Regions from separate parts of the Homo sapiens genome. Here region 1 is linked to region 2. A link means that fine-mapping ties the variant in region 2 to the expression of a gene that starts in the linked region. Tissue or cell type: blood mononuclear cells. Region 2 holds a variant in brackets; the other region holds the start of a gene. All regions are shown on one strand. Distances are between the middles of the regions.

Region 1 (8,126 bases), 400 kb before region 2:
CTCTACTAAAAATACAAAAATTAGGTAAGCCTGGTGGCACACATTTGTAATCCCAGCTACTTGGGAGGCTGAGACAAGAGGATAGCTTGAACCTAGGCCAGAGTGAGACTCTGTCTCAAAAAAAAAAAAAAAAAAAAAAAAGAAACCCAAAAGACATGTACATTCAAAACTATAAGGCACTGCTTAGAATATTAAACATGTAAATAAATGAAGACGGGCTATATTTGTGAATGGAAGTCTAAATATTGCTAAGATATCAATTATCCCACAATTTATCTGTAGGTCCAACCTCATTACAATCATGTTCCCTACTCTCCTTTTTTGGGTAGAAATTAATAAGCTGATATTTAAAATTATATGGACTTAAGAAAACTAAACATATTCTTACCATATGATCCAGGCAATTGTGCTTCTGGGTATTTACTCAAAGGAGTTGGAAACTTGTGTCCACACAAAAACCTTCACATGTGAAATATGAGAATAGTTATAATCTATAGTGACAAAATTAGATCAGCAGTTGCCTTTTTCTGGGAATGGAGGTTGGGGGATTTATTGCAAAAGGTCAGATGCTGATAGCAGTTGTATCAATAATTGTCAAAACTTGGAACCAACCAAGGTGTTTTTCATTAGATGAATGGATGAGTAAACTGTGGTACTTCAAGATAACGAAATATTTTTTCAGTGCTAAAAAGAAATGAGCTATCAAGCCATGAAAAGAGGAAACTTAAATGCATATTACTAAGTGAAAGAAACTTATCTGAAAGGCTATATATTGTATGATTCCAAATATATGACCTTTTGGAAAAGGTAAAACTAAGGGGACAGTAAAAAGATCAGTGGTTGCCAGTGTTTGGAGGTGGGGACAGGGAGGAGGCATGAATACGTGGAGCACAGAGGAATCTCAGGGCAGTAAAATTACTCTATATGATAGTGTAATGTTGGATACATGTCATTATAAATTTAATGTAATTATAAATTACATTAAAACCTAATGTAAACTATGAAATCGGAGTGATAATGATATGTCAATGTAGGTTTTCAGTTGTGACAAATATATCACTCTGATGGGGCATGTTGATAAAGGGGGAGGCTATGAATGTGTTGGGTCAGAGGTATATGGAAAATCTCTGTACCTTCTGCTCAACTTTGTTGTGAATCTAAAACAGCTCTAAACAATAGTCTATTAAAATTAAAAAATAAAATATTCAACTTCACCAATGAATAGATTTTTACCTAAATATTACATAATATGTGAAGAACCTAAAATAGTAAAGATAATTTTGTTTTGTAAAACAACATTATAGGATTTACCTTACCTAACTTTGAGGCTCACTGTAAAGCTACAGTAATAGAGACTGTGATAGTGGAATAAGGAGATATATATATATATATATATATATATATATATGCCATTATATATATATATATGCCATTATATATATATATGCCATTATATATATATATGCCATTATATATATATATGCCATTTTATATATATATATATATATATATATATATGCCAATGAAAAGAGAGTCCAAAAATAGACCCACACGTGGTCAATTGACTTTTGAAAAAAGATCCAAGGTAATTAGACGAGGAAATTATATCTTTCTCAACAAATGATGATGAAGTGAATGGATATCTACATGGAAAAAGAAAGCCCTTACCTAAGCCTCTACTTCACAGCAAACACCAAAATTTGCTGGAAATAAATCATAGACCCAACTGTAGAAGCTAAGACTATAAAATCTCTAGAAAAAAAATAAAGAAGATAATGTTCACAACTTTGGTGTAGGCAATGATTTCTGAAAGGGACAAAAAATATTAAGCATAATGAATGATTTAATAAATTGTATTTAATCAGAATTAAACACTTCTGCTCTTTGAAAGCACTCCAAATGCAAAGTCAAGCCACAGATTGAGAACAATACATATTATAGTAAATGTACTTGACAAAGGTCTTTTCTCTAGAATATGTATTTAAATCTTATTAATAATCTGGCAAACAAAGCAAAATGAGCAAAGATTTCAAGAAGAATTTCACAAAATAAGATATACAAATGACGATTAAGCACATGAAAATATGTTCAGCATCATCAAAGAAGTGCAAATGACACCACCAATGAGGTATCACCACACAAGCACTAGAATGGCTAAAATGTAACAATATTAGATGTTAATAAAGCCATAGAGCATCTGGAACTCCTATATATTGCTGTGGGAGGAATGTAAAATTATAAAACAACATTGGAAAAGAGGTTCACAGTTTTGTATAGCGCTAATTACATACCTGATAATATAACTCCTAAGACTTGATAGGAATAGAGAAATATAAACATGTCCATGCGAACACTGTGTTTAAATAATCATAGCAATTTTATTCTTCATAGCCCCAAACTGGAACAACCCAAATGTACTTTAATAGTTGAATGTATTAAAAAATTGTGATATATCCATACGATATAGAATGATAGATACTATTAGAATGATAGAATATTATTCAGAGATGAAAAGGAATGTATTACTGATATAAGCAACATGACTATACCTCCAAAACATGTTGCAAAGTGAAAGAAGCCAGACACAAAAGATTACTATTTTATTATTGTATTTACATGAAATATGAGAATAGTTATAATCTATAGTGACAAAATTAGATCAGCAGTTGCCTTTTTCTGGGAATGGAGGTTGGGGGATTTATTGCAAAAGGTCAGAAAGAAAACTTTTTGAGATTATAGAAATAGACTATGTATTGGGTACTTTGTCAGATGAGTATTTACATCTAAAAAATGTTTCAAATGAGCATATTTATTGTGTGTAAATTGTACCTTATTTAGGTTTATTTGGAAAAAATATAGCTCTAAATATACTGGTTCATTTTAATTTGGGTTAAATATTTAAGAATTTTTTCCATGTGCTGAATCAAACAAGTAGAGTTGACAGTGGAGATCATAGTCTTATTCTCAAGGCATTTTCATGTAAAATAGGAACTCAGGTAACTGCAGTAACTGCAGAAAAGCAGGTACAAATATTGATTATAAAATCCTGGGAAAATGTAAAGAGGAAGGGGATAGAGGGAACATGGTATATTTTCATTCCACAATTAGAGTTAGCAGCTGCATCATTCTGATTTTCCTTTTTATAAATATTTTTTATTATTTATTAGATTAACTAATTTGAGTTGAGGCCACAACATGGTTGAGTAAAAATAATCATTTTCCTTTTTATAAATATTCAATAAAACTTTTCCTTTTTATAAATATTTTTTATTATTTATTAGATTAACTAATTTGAGTTGAGGCCACAACGTGGTTGAGTAAAAATAATCATTCTGAGAATAGCAATAGGTTTAGAAGGTTAATTTAGGGTGCCTCTCTGCTATTAGATGTACCTGAAAAACACTTCTAGGCAAAATTAGACCAAATTAAAAACACTGGGGCTTCAATTATAATAAACTCTCAAATATAAGTTTTATTATTGTTTATTATAATAATAAATAATGTATAAGTGTGCAGACATGGGCAGACTACATTTTGCAAATTTCCACAGTAAGGTAAAAGGATTACAAAGCTTTCTGGTATAATATTAACAGAACTAAAAGACATGAATAATATTAAAGAATGGGCTTTGGCTAGTGATTTTCAATCAATTCTCTTCAAAGCAATACTCTCTTAATTTTACTGAAAGAAAATTCAACTTTAATATAATATTTAGATAAATCAATACATCTTAACTATAAAAAAGAAAACTATCTATATAAGACAATATGTATTTCAACATATAAATGCTTGGGTAAAACTTCCTTAGGAGGCAAAATAAAATAAAAGTTTGCACCTATTCTTAGATGACCCCAGTGTAATCGATGGGATGTTGATATTGTGCTGGTGACTCAAGTACCATGGGCAAGGTTGTTATCAGTGATGTGCTTCTCTGAAAGTACATCTTTACACCCATTGACAAATGGGTGTAAAATCCAAAAACACAAAGTAAATTATCTTCTCAATGTATATAGTAGATGCATCCTAGAAAAAAACAAACAAACAAACAAAAAACACACACAAAAATTTGATGTGGAAACAAACTTAAATTAGGTTTCAAATATAAGGCAAGGTTTTGTTGTTTTGTTTGTTTGTTTACTCACTACATAAATGACCAGTGGCCCATTCAGAAGTCTAAGGACAAAATATGTTGTAGGACTGTCCTGACCACTGAGGGACAGCTCACACCCTGACCCAACAGTACACTAATGCCTGCAGTACCCACCGTTCCCGGAGTAAACCAAAAGACATCCTGCGACTCACAAAATCCATTATGGAGTTGTTTTAAACCTTATGAGAACCACTGACCTAGGCCATAAAAAACAAATGAAAAAACAACAAAAACTAGGAATGGCAGTAGTTCTGTTGAGTTAAAGAGGAGAAAGAGGAGAAACCAGGACTGGAAGAGATGAAATTGTGAGTCTGGAAGGAAACTATTGCAAAGGCCTTTATTACCTTTAAGTAAATGTCTCCTAACTGAACTGAAAGCCTTCATTCTAACCATTAGTTTGGTCAGGAACATTTCAGGGACGCCAGGGTGGCTGTTTTATTTTGCACTTCCTTTACTGCCCTCCCAGCAGCCTACCTAGCAGTAAGTTCCCCAGCCTGCAGTGTCCCCAGAGGGCACCTTCCCTCGGCTAGTAACTTCTCAGACACTCTGGCCTTGGGGATGTCTTGGATCTTCTAGGTACACAGTGGCTGCACACAGTTTTGCCAGGCCTTTCTCAAGAGGTAAAAGTTCCTAGCTGTTTGCATTTCCCAGAAATAATGTTTTCCATGTGTAGGGATTTTACAGATTTCAAAGTGCTTTCATGTCAATTACTTTCTTTAATTTAAAAGAAGTTCAGATACCAGGTCAAGCTAGGAATGATCCGGTCTCAGAGGGAAGGAGCGCTCTAGGAAAGGAGGATCCTTTAATAGAGGGCCGTCCTGGGGCCGCGTGCCCATGGAAGGCGAGAGTGGAGGAGTGTCCTCTTTCTCCCCCACCCTCAGGCGGCGGCCCGGCCAAAGCCAGAGGGGGCTGTCTCCTCCTCTTCCCCAGCAGCTGCTGCTCGCTCAGCTCACAAGCCAAGGCCAGGGGACAGGGCGGCAGCGACTCCTCTGGCTCCCGAGAAGTGGATCCGGTCGCGGCCACTACGATGCCGGGAGCCGCCGGGGTCCTCCTCCTTCTGCTGCTCTCCGGAGGCCTCGGGGGCGTACAGGCGCAGCGGCCGCAGCAGCAGCGGCAGTCACAGGCACATCAGCAAAGAGGTACAGTCGAGGCATGGGCTTGGGTTGCATCCTTTGCCGGGACCGAGATTCCTCACTTCTTCCACTCTTCCGAGAGTTGCTGTCTGTGGACTGCCGTCTTGCTTCGCCTTCAGAGAGTGCGCTCTGGGGCAAGAGGAACTTGAAGCAAGTTCAAGTTCAATGCCATGAGAGCGTAGTGTAGGGGGAATTACCTAAGTCCTGCAAAAGGAACGGGGAGTGCTTTTCATTGTTCTTTAGTTTCGAAGAGGTCTTGCTATCACGATACATCCCGTAAATTGATTTCTGAAATCTTTCCAAGAGGAAAACTTTTTCCAATTGGAAAAAAAAGAATTTCTTCAAATCAGAGCCCATCCTGCAGAGAAAGGCTTCCCAAGCTGTGTGGTTCATCCTGGGACTTTATGGAGGGTAGCTGATGCATCAAAAAAAAATTATATATATATATATACACACACACACACACACACACACACACACACACATATATATATATATAAAGTTTTACAGAACTTTGTTTTCAACTTTTAAAACAGGATTTCTAAAGAAGTTATGTGGTTTTTTTTCTTTCATGGCAATGGCGCCTCCAGCCTCACCTTTTTCAAACCCACATCTTATCTTCATATCCTATTTTATTGTAGTGAAATCGTGAAATTTCTCCTTTTGCTTAAATACAGAGGAGACTTCTATGTCATGTGTACTTTAAGGCCACAGTGACTAGATATACACTTTGGAGGACTTTGGAAGATGGCTGTATTTAATGTAACTTAAATAACTTATTCTCCTCAGAGCCTCTTAGTGTTTATGTATATATAGCTCTCATTTCTGAAACTTTGGGGAGTCTTTGAAGAGTTATTTTATTATCATGAATTTTACAGGAAGCACATGTGCAGCATTGTAAGACATACTTTGTAACACATTATTTCAGCAAACAATTCTTTAAGTTGGAAAACCTGTATCAAAGTAAAAAAAAAAGAAATATTTATTATTCGGTTTTAAATATGAAAATGTTTAACCTAAGAGTACAAAATCTGTAGGTTAGAAGCTTTTAAAAGTTTTAATGAGGCTGAATCTGCTTAAGTTTTGAAGTATACTTATCCTTCTTCCAGTTAACTTCTAGCCAAGTCAATAGTTCTGATATTTGTTCTTATAATCTAGCATTTTTAGCAGTACTATTTTTTAAGGAGTAAAGAGATATCCCAAGCTCTTTCTATAATAATAACTCCCTGATTAAAATTCTTGGAATAAAAATGACCTTGCATTCACTATATAACTTTTTTCCTTCTATTTTTGCTTTTGCTTCTCTGAGAGGTAAAATGGGGCCAATATGACTTAATTAATATAATTTACGAGAGTGATTTTAAGAGTATCTCTGGCCACTTATTTTTAAAAATTCTACTTTTAACTATTAAACTTTGCTCAATTACAAGGTGTGTTTAAACAAGACATAATACTTTAATAATGTTAGGCAGCTGGGAGAAATGAGGGGCCAGGGGCACCAATCCTTATGTCCACTTGGAATGGGGCAGAAACTCAAAGCATGCAGAGTAAGGATCAAGTAAATTGTTGCTAAGAATTATCCTGAACACACACAGGATTTCTCTTTTTTCCTCTCCCTTCTTATTTACTCTCTTTTCAAATAAGGTAATATTAACTCTGATTTCTATGACCCAGGCACAAGATGAAGTGAATTCAGGAGGAAGGGTTTATACTACCATTCTGTCAAGATACCACTTAAATGCTACATACAATAAGGAATTTTATTCAAAATAGCTACAACATACAATCTACTATAGGCTGCTATAATCTGCATTCTAGTATATATTATTGTCTTTGTCATAGACCATTTACAATATATCTGGAGGTTGGCTCAAGGATAAATGACTTAAACCTGTTAATGTTGAAAGTATGTAAAATTCATGAAACTTTAAAATTGGATAGTGATTTATGATTTAAAAATGCCTTATGTACACGATCTTTATTCACCTTCAGATATTATTATTCTCAAAGGACAAATTTAGAACTTAGGCTTCCAGTAGTTGTAATTTAAGTTTACATAATAATAACTTTATTTCAACAACTAAAACACTTCCGGTATTGTTTGTGCTGAATTCCCTTTTTTATGGTTCCAAGGTTTCTTTCCATTAATTGTTTAGGCCATGTTTTCTTTTTAGTGTTGTTCCATTGAAGCAAGCCCTCTGTGAAAATCACGGGATATGAGTTTGACTGGAGAAGGGTTTTCCTGGCTATGATCAACTTTTCTGTTTTCGATTATACTAGCACTGACCTTTCTAGGCAAGCGCTAATTGTGTAGAAGTTCTATTTCCCCTTATAATTCGATACCACTTTATTAAGAATTTTTGACATGAATCAACCATTTTTAGATGTTGCAGTTGAGTTAGAAACATAACCAGACTTTTTGTTTTTTACTTTTTCTTTGAAATCTTATGTGGTTTCTATAGCATACTCGATTGTAGTATGAATAGCATTGATTCAGCAAGAATGATATTCCAAGGAAATTCTTTAGCTATATTTAAAATTGACGAAATAGAATGATGCAATCAAAATGATTCTGCATTTCAGCAAGGCAGTGTCTAAAATGTTTTCTGATATTCTTGTGAATAATATGTGGAAACTGAAGCATAATGGCAGGTAAATTGCAACTGATTGAAAAATAGTTCACAAAGAATATTGCATAGTGGATTAAGGTCAATCCGGAAAGAAGTCTCTAGCAGTGCAACAGAGGTTTTCTTATACTCAACTATCTTGGTAATGGCTTGATGGAAAATGTAAAATCCAAGCTTATCAGAACTGCATGTGGTCCAAAATTGATAGAGGTGGCT
Region 2 (8,000 bases):
CCCTATTTGTGGAAAATGCCCGCTGCTCTTGGCTTTCTTGTGTTTCCTGTGGCGTGGTTTGGATAATCCGGGATGAAGAACATTTTCTGCTGGTGTGGAGCTAGCCAAATAGAGTTAAATGACATAATCTTGGAATCACTTGAGGTCAATGATGATCTCACAATTTCCTCTTTGTGTCACGGAACAATTAGCTTCATGTCTTGGCCAAAATTAGTGCTAAGTGACTGCATTTGCCAAGGCAAATTCTGTAGATGTTTTTTATTGTGCATGTTTATTTCTCACTCTAATTTTATTTTTGTTGTTGAATGCCATCTTCTGCCATAGCTGTAACTGCAATTACAGCAATAAGAGAGTGAATCTTCAGTTTATGTTGTTGAAAGAATATCAAAGCACAAATACAGATATATTTTATGAGAAAGTTTTATTTGGATGCGTTATGTCGAGTATCTATATTACTAGAAACTTAAACTTACTTAATTCTTACCAGTAGGTTTCAATGACAATTGGTTATAGGAAGAAGAGAATATCACATTAAGAATCTAAAGTCCTAGATCCCATACTAAATTCTCCTGGAAATTTTGTATATGACCTTGGTTAAGAAAAACTGTGCCTGCCCTAACCAGCTCATAGGATTTTGTGAAAATGTGATAAAATTGTAAAAGTATTCTGAACTGTAAGGAGCTAGTCAAATTTAACATATTTTTATTGCCTAATTTTTTTCTCGAAAAAGTGTTGATTTTTGTCAGTGAGCACCTTTTACTTATGTTGGTTTTAACTGACATGTGAGTGTATTTAAGAATCTGAAATCTATTTTATGAATAGCTTTAAAGTGTCAAGGCCAGGTGCAATGGCTCATGCCTGTAATCCTAGCACTTTGGGAGGCCAAGGCAGGTGGATCACTTGAGGTCAGGAGTTCAAGACCAGCCCGGCCAATATGGTGAGACCCCATTTCTACTAAAAATACAAAAATGGGCCAGGCCTGGTAGCACCTGCCTGCAATCCCAGCTACTCAGGAGGCTGAGACACTAGAATCGCTTGAACCCAGTAGGCAGGGGTTTCAGTGAGCCAAGATTGCACCACTGCACTCCAGTCTGGGCAACAGAGCAAGACTCTGTCTCAAATAAAATAAAATAAAATATTTTTAAAAATGTCAGAAGCCTTGTCAACCACCATTGACAAGAGTTATGATAAACTGATTTAGGATTATAAAAAACAATTGGTATGGTTTTCTTTCAATCAGTGTAGTCCCACAGAGGTGGGAAACCCAGTGCTTCTGGTTGGAGTCAGTTTCTCAGTAGATGATGAGATAGTTACAGAATGCCAATTTTCAAAGAAGACATATATATGCTACAGAGATGCAGTTCTCACTTTTATGTCTGAAAACAGTAACAGCAAATCACCGGATGTGGATGAGAGGAAATCCTTTTTTTTTATTTTATTTTAACCTGTGCATCTTCAGTGCAATCACAATCCCGTCAAGAAAATCACCCATAGTGAACTGTCTTTGGGTCATGCGTAGCAAAGTACAGGATGCTTTATAAAAGGAGATTCTTTACTCGCAGTGCACACGCTGGGTATGTCTTGTCTGCTGTTCATCACAGCTACCAGAACTCCTTAATGTGGAATCTTTGATCCAGATAATATTTATAAATTCAAAGCATCCCAGACCAGCCTTTATCTCCTTGACCCAGCAGATTCATTTAGACTTTCCACTGAGTTGAAATGTTTAAAATGATAGACTTACCTGGTCCTAATACCTTGCTAGTATCCCAAAAATAGGAAGAACTATTAAATCTTTACAGAACTACCCTGAGTTAAGCCAGAGAAATACTATTCAGAAATAGTGTTCATGATCTGATCTGCACCAAAGTTAAGAAAGTATTTCAAAGTAATTCAAGTGTCAGGAGCAGGATCAAATCAGGACTTGGAATGTTTAATTTGTTGTTATGTCTTTAATTCATTTAGCCATCAAGCAAGTCTCTATTGAATTGCCCTGTCATATATAATAGAAAACAAATCTACTTAGGGAAAACATAATAAGAGAAAGATTAATTGAGGGCATTTCCCTTTAAAACGGTAGCGCAACAGACCTTACAGAATTCAAAATGGTTGATGGCCCTTCAGAGAGCCAGTCGAGAACGCATTACCGTGTGTCAATCTTGGGGTAGGGGTTCATGTATGAGAGGTGCCTCTCACAAGGCAAAGAAGCATGGCTGGAGTGAAACATGTTGCTGAAAGCTAAAGCTAGCACCTGAGTTCTCTGTTGGTTCTTCATCTGGTGTTCAGCTCTATTGCTTCAGACCCAAATTAGAAATATGTGCAAAGAGAGAAGTGAATTTTGAAACATGCCAGAGGGTATGAGATGGCAAGGTTGCTTTTGTTTGGTTAGGTTTATGATAAGTTTAGGTAGAATATGCACACTTGATCTCTTCTGAAAGCTTTCCTGAGGATTCCATCAGTGTGAGGGCATACCTGCAAGGAAGCACATGCCGCAGCCTGCACACAGGCACGCCCCACTATGGCAGTAGCTGAAGAAGGAAGCACTGCCACCACCACTACCACATACTGAGATTTCCAAAATCACTAACAAATTTCTCCAGGCTGCTTCAAATTCAGAGGGATTTGGCTACAGAAGAAAGTATGTGAGGCTGCATATGTGCCAGGCCTGGAGGAATTTCTAAAAAGCAGCTATACATTTCCACTTGTTACTGATGATCACTACTCAGAGCAGTCGAAAGTCAGTTAATAACATGTCACAGGGATACTGCTCTCCACTGGGCTATATTCACGTCTGCAGAAATAGCAATGTCATTTCATCCTCCATTGGCCAGACCCTAATCTCTGTCTCTGGGGTGAGAATGACCAGCCTGTACTCTTTTGTCAGAGCAGTAGTGGAGAGAGAGAAATGAGAAAATGCTAATGACTTTGTGTATGTCCTTCTTCCTTGTCCCTGTTTTCCGCAACAACATCAACATAGCTTTAGCCCAACGTGCCATTTAGACCGGAGTCTTGGATTGATCTGTGATGGATGCCCTGTCGGGTACACAGGACCACGCTGTGAGAGGTAAGAGTATACTACACTGTCTTGCAAAATGATTTCTACCTTGGGAGTTATAAAACCGCAGATACAATCATCCTTTGCATCATCCTTTGGAGAAAAAAGGCCACACTCAATGAGGTGAAATAAAGTTTCTCAACGCACTTGTCAAACAAATGCATTATATTTTTGTAATTTATTTATTTTTCAGAAATTGCTTCATAAATCTTCATTCACTCAGAGAATATCTGATTAATGTTTTAATCTTAAAGGTTAAGTATTAACCTACAATCTTTGTAGAAAGCATTGCTCAAGTGGAAAGTCATGCACTTTAAGATTTATCTTACTGTCTGTGTAGGCACCATTTATTTTTCATAATTAGCTTTTTGTCCTTAAAATGTAGCTTAAATGCATAGTTCATAGTTCAGCAAGTGGTTCATAATTTACTTTAAATATACTTGAAAATAGAAACAAAATGTAATTTATTATCATGATTTATATCCTCTTCTAATTGCTCCTAAACCAGTATTTTAATTCCTGTTGATTTTACTGGGTTGCTTTGCAGCAGAAACAAGAGTATTATTTTATGTAATTTGTGTGATTATATTTCCTTCTGAAATGTTTTTGAAGAAATAATTCTTCTATATATTCAGCCTCAGCATAAAAGTGATACAAACTTCCCCCTTGACATCATTGCCAAAAACAAAAACCTCCCTCTGGTTTCAGCACTGGAAATAGTCCCTGCTGCCACCCTTCCTGGGAGGGAGGGGTGCAAAGGAAGTGACCTACTTTCACTCATCATCACTGAGGCTAACCCTGAAGAGGGCTGTTTCTGCCCGTCTTTTCCTGTCATCTTGGCAGCTATCACCCCTGTTTCAACCAGGATGCATAAAATTAATGAAGCAGGAGCCTATCACC[C/G]AGAGAGAATTTAGCTAGCAACTAGCAGTCTGTGGACAAAGTGCCAATGACAGTTCCTAGCAGCAACAAGTACTATTTGTGAGTATGGAAGCATCTGTAAATTAGGAATGAAAGAAAAAAAAATGAAACAAGCAGCATTTATTTGCAATCAAGAAACTAGATATCTTTAATTGTGTGTGTGTGTCTGTGTGTGTGTTTAAAGAAAGGCATGTGCATATTACTTACTATAATAGGAGAACATATCATTGCCAAGACAGATTTACATCAAGTGCCTAAACCCCCCAGTTCACTACAGGCAACCTTTTTTTAGCAACTGGAAAATGACAGCTGCTCTGTCATACAAGGCTATTAAATCCACTTATCTAGGTGAGCATAATCTCTGATGTACTTATATTGCTTTGCTTTATGTACTATACTCCCTATACATGTTAGACAATAGTTTCTGAACCATCTATAATTTAAAACCCTACATTTTATTTAACAAACATCTGTTTAGCAACTACCATGTGCTGGGTACAAGGCTAGACATTGGATATAAATAGATGCATTTTCCCATCCTTGCCCTCAGCACCTCACATCTTTCTTTAATGCAAGTGAGGATGGTTGCTTGTATTCTTGGGAGAATTCCATTTGAATAGTAAAAATCACCAAGGAGAGAAATACCTGACAGAAAGTATGATTTCCTGTCTAAAATCTGTATTAATCTGATTCAGAAGATGGCAACATGCATATGCAGTGTAATGAATGGCATATTTTATCTCCAGCTCAAGTTTTTCCACAGTTGATACCATATTTTTCTAGCCAGAATTTAGATTAGGGTTTTCCAGGAATATTTAAGATTTATAATTTCATTGTATTTATGTAAGCCAAAAGAACACCTTAGATAGATCTAAAATATGAGGGAAACATTTTTTGTTTGAGATGTGCCTGTTGAAGTAGAAGAGAGGGAAGATAAGGGTCAGGGTAAGGAGGAGATACTGGTTGCATTAAAAATCTTGTAATCAAAACCATTCTGTAAGTGATTTGTGTGATCAGCTTATGCACATCATCTAAATAAGACCAGAATTTAAAAACTAAATCAACATTTCCCAAATTGTAGATGTTCCTGGAATAAAGAATTCTGTGATCACATGAGTTTGGGAAGCATCCATTTGCATGTTAAAAGTTCTGGCATGTCCTACAGTGTGTAATTAAGAAATCTGTTCAATTTGTTTAGCTCAGCATTTCCTAAACTTATGTGGCCATAAACCCTCTGCTTTAACTATATAGCAAGAATATATCTCAGACTACAGCTCAGGTGGGACAAGAGTTATAACTTTATAGTCTTTATCACAATTTAATTTCTATTTTGAGACCCCTTTCTCTATATGTGGGAACTGTGAGGTCTTAGAAACATAATCTGAGCCCATTTCAAGTTGTTTTCTTCTCCTCTCTCCCAGCTAGAATCAAAGTTCTATTAAGCTTACCTAGTACCAAAGGCCTTATATGCAAGGGTAGAGGGGAGGGTATAATGTCTGTGTGTATATGTTGAGCAAGGGGACATGTGATAGGGCCAGCCAGTACTGAGTATTTCACCCAAGCATGTTTCTGCTGACCTATCCCTTTTTCTCCGTCCTCCTAATTACCTTTCCTTTCAGGTCTAGAAAGTCTCTCAACTACTTTCATTCCATTCTTAGAGGCACAGGAATCATTCAGCTTCTTTCATTCCATGCTAAGACCCACCAACATCTCTACCATCATCATTTTTCCATCTGCCTTTCCAAATCCATCCCATTTTCTATTTGAAAAAGGATGAGCTACATTTGTGGAACTGGTGGCTTTCAGAGCTCGGGGTCTGGCAGATTCCTATGTCTCTGCCTTTTGCCCTGTCAAATCCCTTCATTCAAACATGTAGCACAAGATGGCCTTGCTTCTTGAATCGAGGGGGTGAAGAGAAACAGTGAACAGGGGAATGGCCAAACAAGATACAACAAAACATGGATTGGTATTCTGTCACAAGTTGAACACTAGTTACAGCTTGGAAAACATTCACTTAGGGCCAAAACACCACTATTTTTGAGGTATCACTGCTTTGCTGGGGAATGATTTAAACAAAGGAAAAAAAAGAGTCAGAGAGTGAGGGGAGAAGGTATTCATGATGATACCTTTGCTAAGATTCTAGACTTTTATCATCTGGACAAGAGGAGAACAAAAATAACAAAGAGACAGAATCTTGAAGGGCTAAAAGAGATTAAGTAAGCAATTGGAATATCAAGAGCAATTAAAAAGACTGTTGAGCTAAAAGTGAGTCAAATGCTGAGGATACCTGCCTGATCGGACACTAAGTTACTTTCAGAATAAGTTTGTAACCTCAGCAACATGTCATACATTATGGAGAAGGCATTTCAAAAAGGCAGGCAAGTTCATCTGGTGGATTCTATAGGACAACATGAAACTTAATGGGATACATAGACTTCTTAAGCCCTCCCCGCTCCCCAGCTGGCAAATTTTTAACAACTTCTCCTTAAGTGATGAGAGAGGGGTCAAAAGCCAGGACTAATCTCACAATTGCCACTGAAAATGTGGAAGGTGTTTGAATCTAATTGCTTAATATTTTGAAAATTCATCTACAGTTTTATCCTCAAGATTCATACTAGATATCAAAGAAATTCCTTTTTGTATCTTAAATTTCAGTTCCAAAATCCCATTTAGATTTTGTCTGCTTCAGAATGTCTGAATTCGAATCAAGTCTAATCACCCCTCTGCTTACTATGCTCATGGGACCTTCTATTCACTTGTGAGTCTCCTTGTGCCTTTGGGTCCTGAATGCAGAGCATGGGCTACAGAAATAACAGAGGAGGGGCAGTTATACCTACCTGTAGTACTGTTAGCAAAATTGTGACTCCAGTTGAGGTGTCAAGAGGCCACTCATATGTGGTTGTGCAGTTTGTACACTGCACAAAGGCACTCAGGGAAGGGGAAGATTGAGGGCTTGAATCCAGTTTACCCTCTTCTTTTCCATGAAGTCCCTGGGTGTCTAGTCTGTTTACTTTTTCTGCATATGTCTAGAAAGGACAATTTCTTCCAACTTGTAAAAGGCACCATGTGAGCAGGGAAACACCCTCAGTCTTTTGCTGATTATGTCAAATGGGAGGAAGTAAGAACACAGCATTACAGCCACGCCTCTTTATACAGCAGCCACCCTCTTCTGTGCCTTTGCCAATACTGTTCCCTCTGCCTGGAAGATTGCAGCCCTTTCACTCCTCCATCCGAGACTAACTAATCCCTGTTCAGCTCCCAAAAGTCAGCACTATCATCCTGAAAATGTCCTTGATTGGGCCTAATCTGAGTTGGTTGCCCTTTTGTGTGCTGCCATAATAGCATTTGCATATCTCCAGTTGTTCTACTGCTACGTTTTAAAATGTGTGTTCATTCTCCATGGACTGTAGTGTGAAGACTGTACCTTATTTGTATTAGTACCGTGTAAAAGTGCTCAGCTGATTTTTTTTAATGGGTTGGGAGAAACCAGAGCTTTTCTAATTTGCTTGGCTAGATTAAGCCAGCATTATATTGTTTCATTGTTTTCAGTGTATAGATAATAGAAATGTAGGCCGTGATTTTAGCCAAAAGTTGCTGAAAAAATGATGGGGCAGAATGAGACAAAAGTCTCATCAGTGTGGTTGCTTTCTTCTCATTGTTGCTTGTCTGCACGTCCGCTCTTTTTCTACCTCTCCCTCTCTCTCTTCCTCTCTCCCTCCCTCCCTCTAACATTGTTCCTAAATTATCAATAGCAGCAAGTGTAACAAATAACTGCATGTGTTATCTGGAGTCTTATTTACATTTAAACGGCCCTTTTTCAAAATATTGCAATTTGATTTGAAAAAGTTAACAGATGTGGAAAGGAACAATGCCTTTGTTATGTCAAGATATCCGTTTCTAGCAAGGCATTCATTCGATAAACTATTTTTAAAAATGCACTCATTCTGCCTTGCATATGAAAATGAGAGGGCTTGACATTTCACATTACAATTATTTTTGGTGGAGTGAAAAACCAAAGGACTGTGAT

The links. PIP is the estimated chance that this variant, and not a neighbour inherited with it, causes the effect.
Region 1: LAMA2 starts here. The variant in region 2 is fine-mapped to the expression of LAMA2 in blood mononuclear cells (TOPMed, PIP above 0.99). The same link has a PIP of 0.9 or more in whole blood.

The regions. Positions count from the first base shown.
Region 1 is chr6:128,878,069-128,886,194 of GRCh38, forward strand. It overlaps LAMA2 (laminin subunit alpha 2), which reads left to right and starts at 5,070. Exons shown (of 65, transcript NM_000426.4): 1 at 5,070-5,289. The coding sequence starts at 5,178.
Region 2 is chr6:129,277,084-129,285,083 of GRCh38, forward strand. It overlaps LAMA2 (laminin subunit alpha 2), which reads left to right. Exons shown (of 65, transcript NM_000426.4): 18 at 2,978-3,064. Among named protein-coding and RNA genes, the nearest start is that of LAMA2, 400 kb to the left of the region's middle. The variant C/G (reference allele first, on the strand shown) is at 3,956.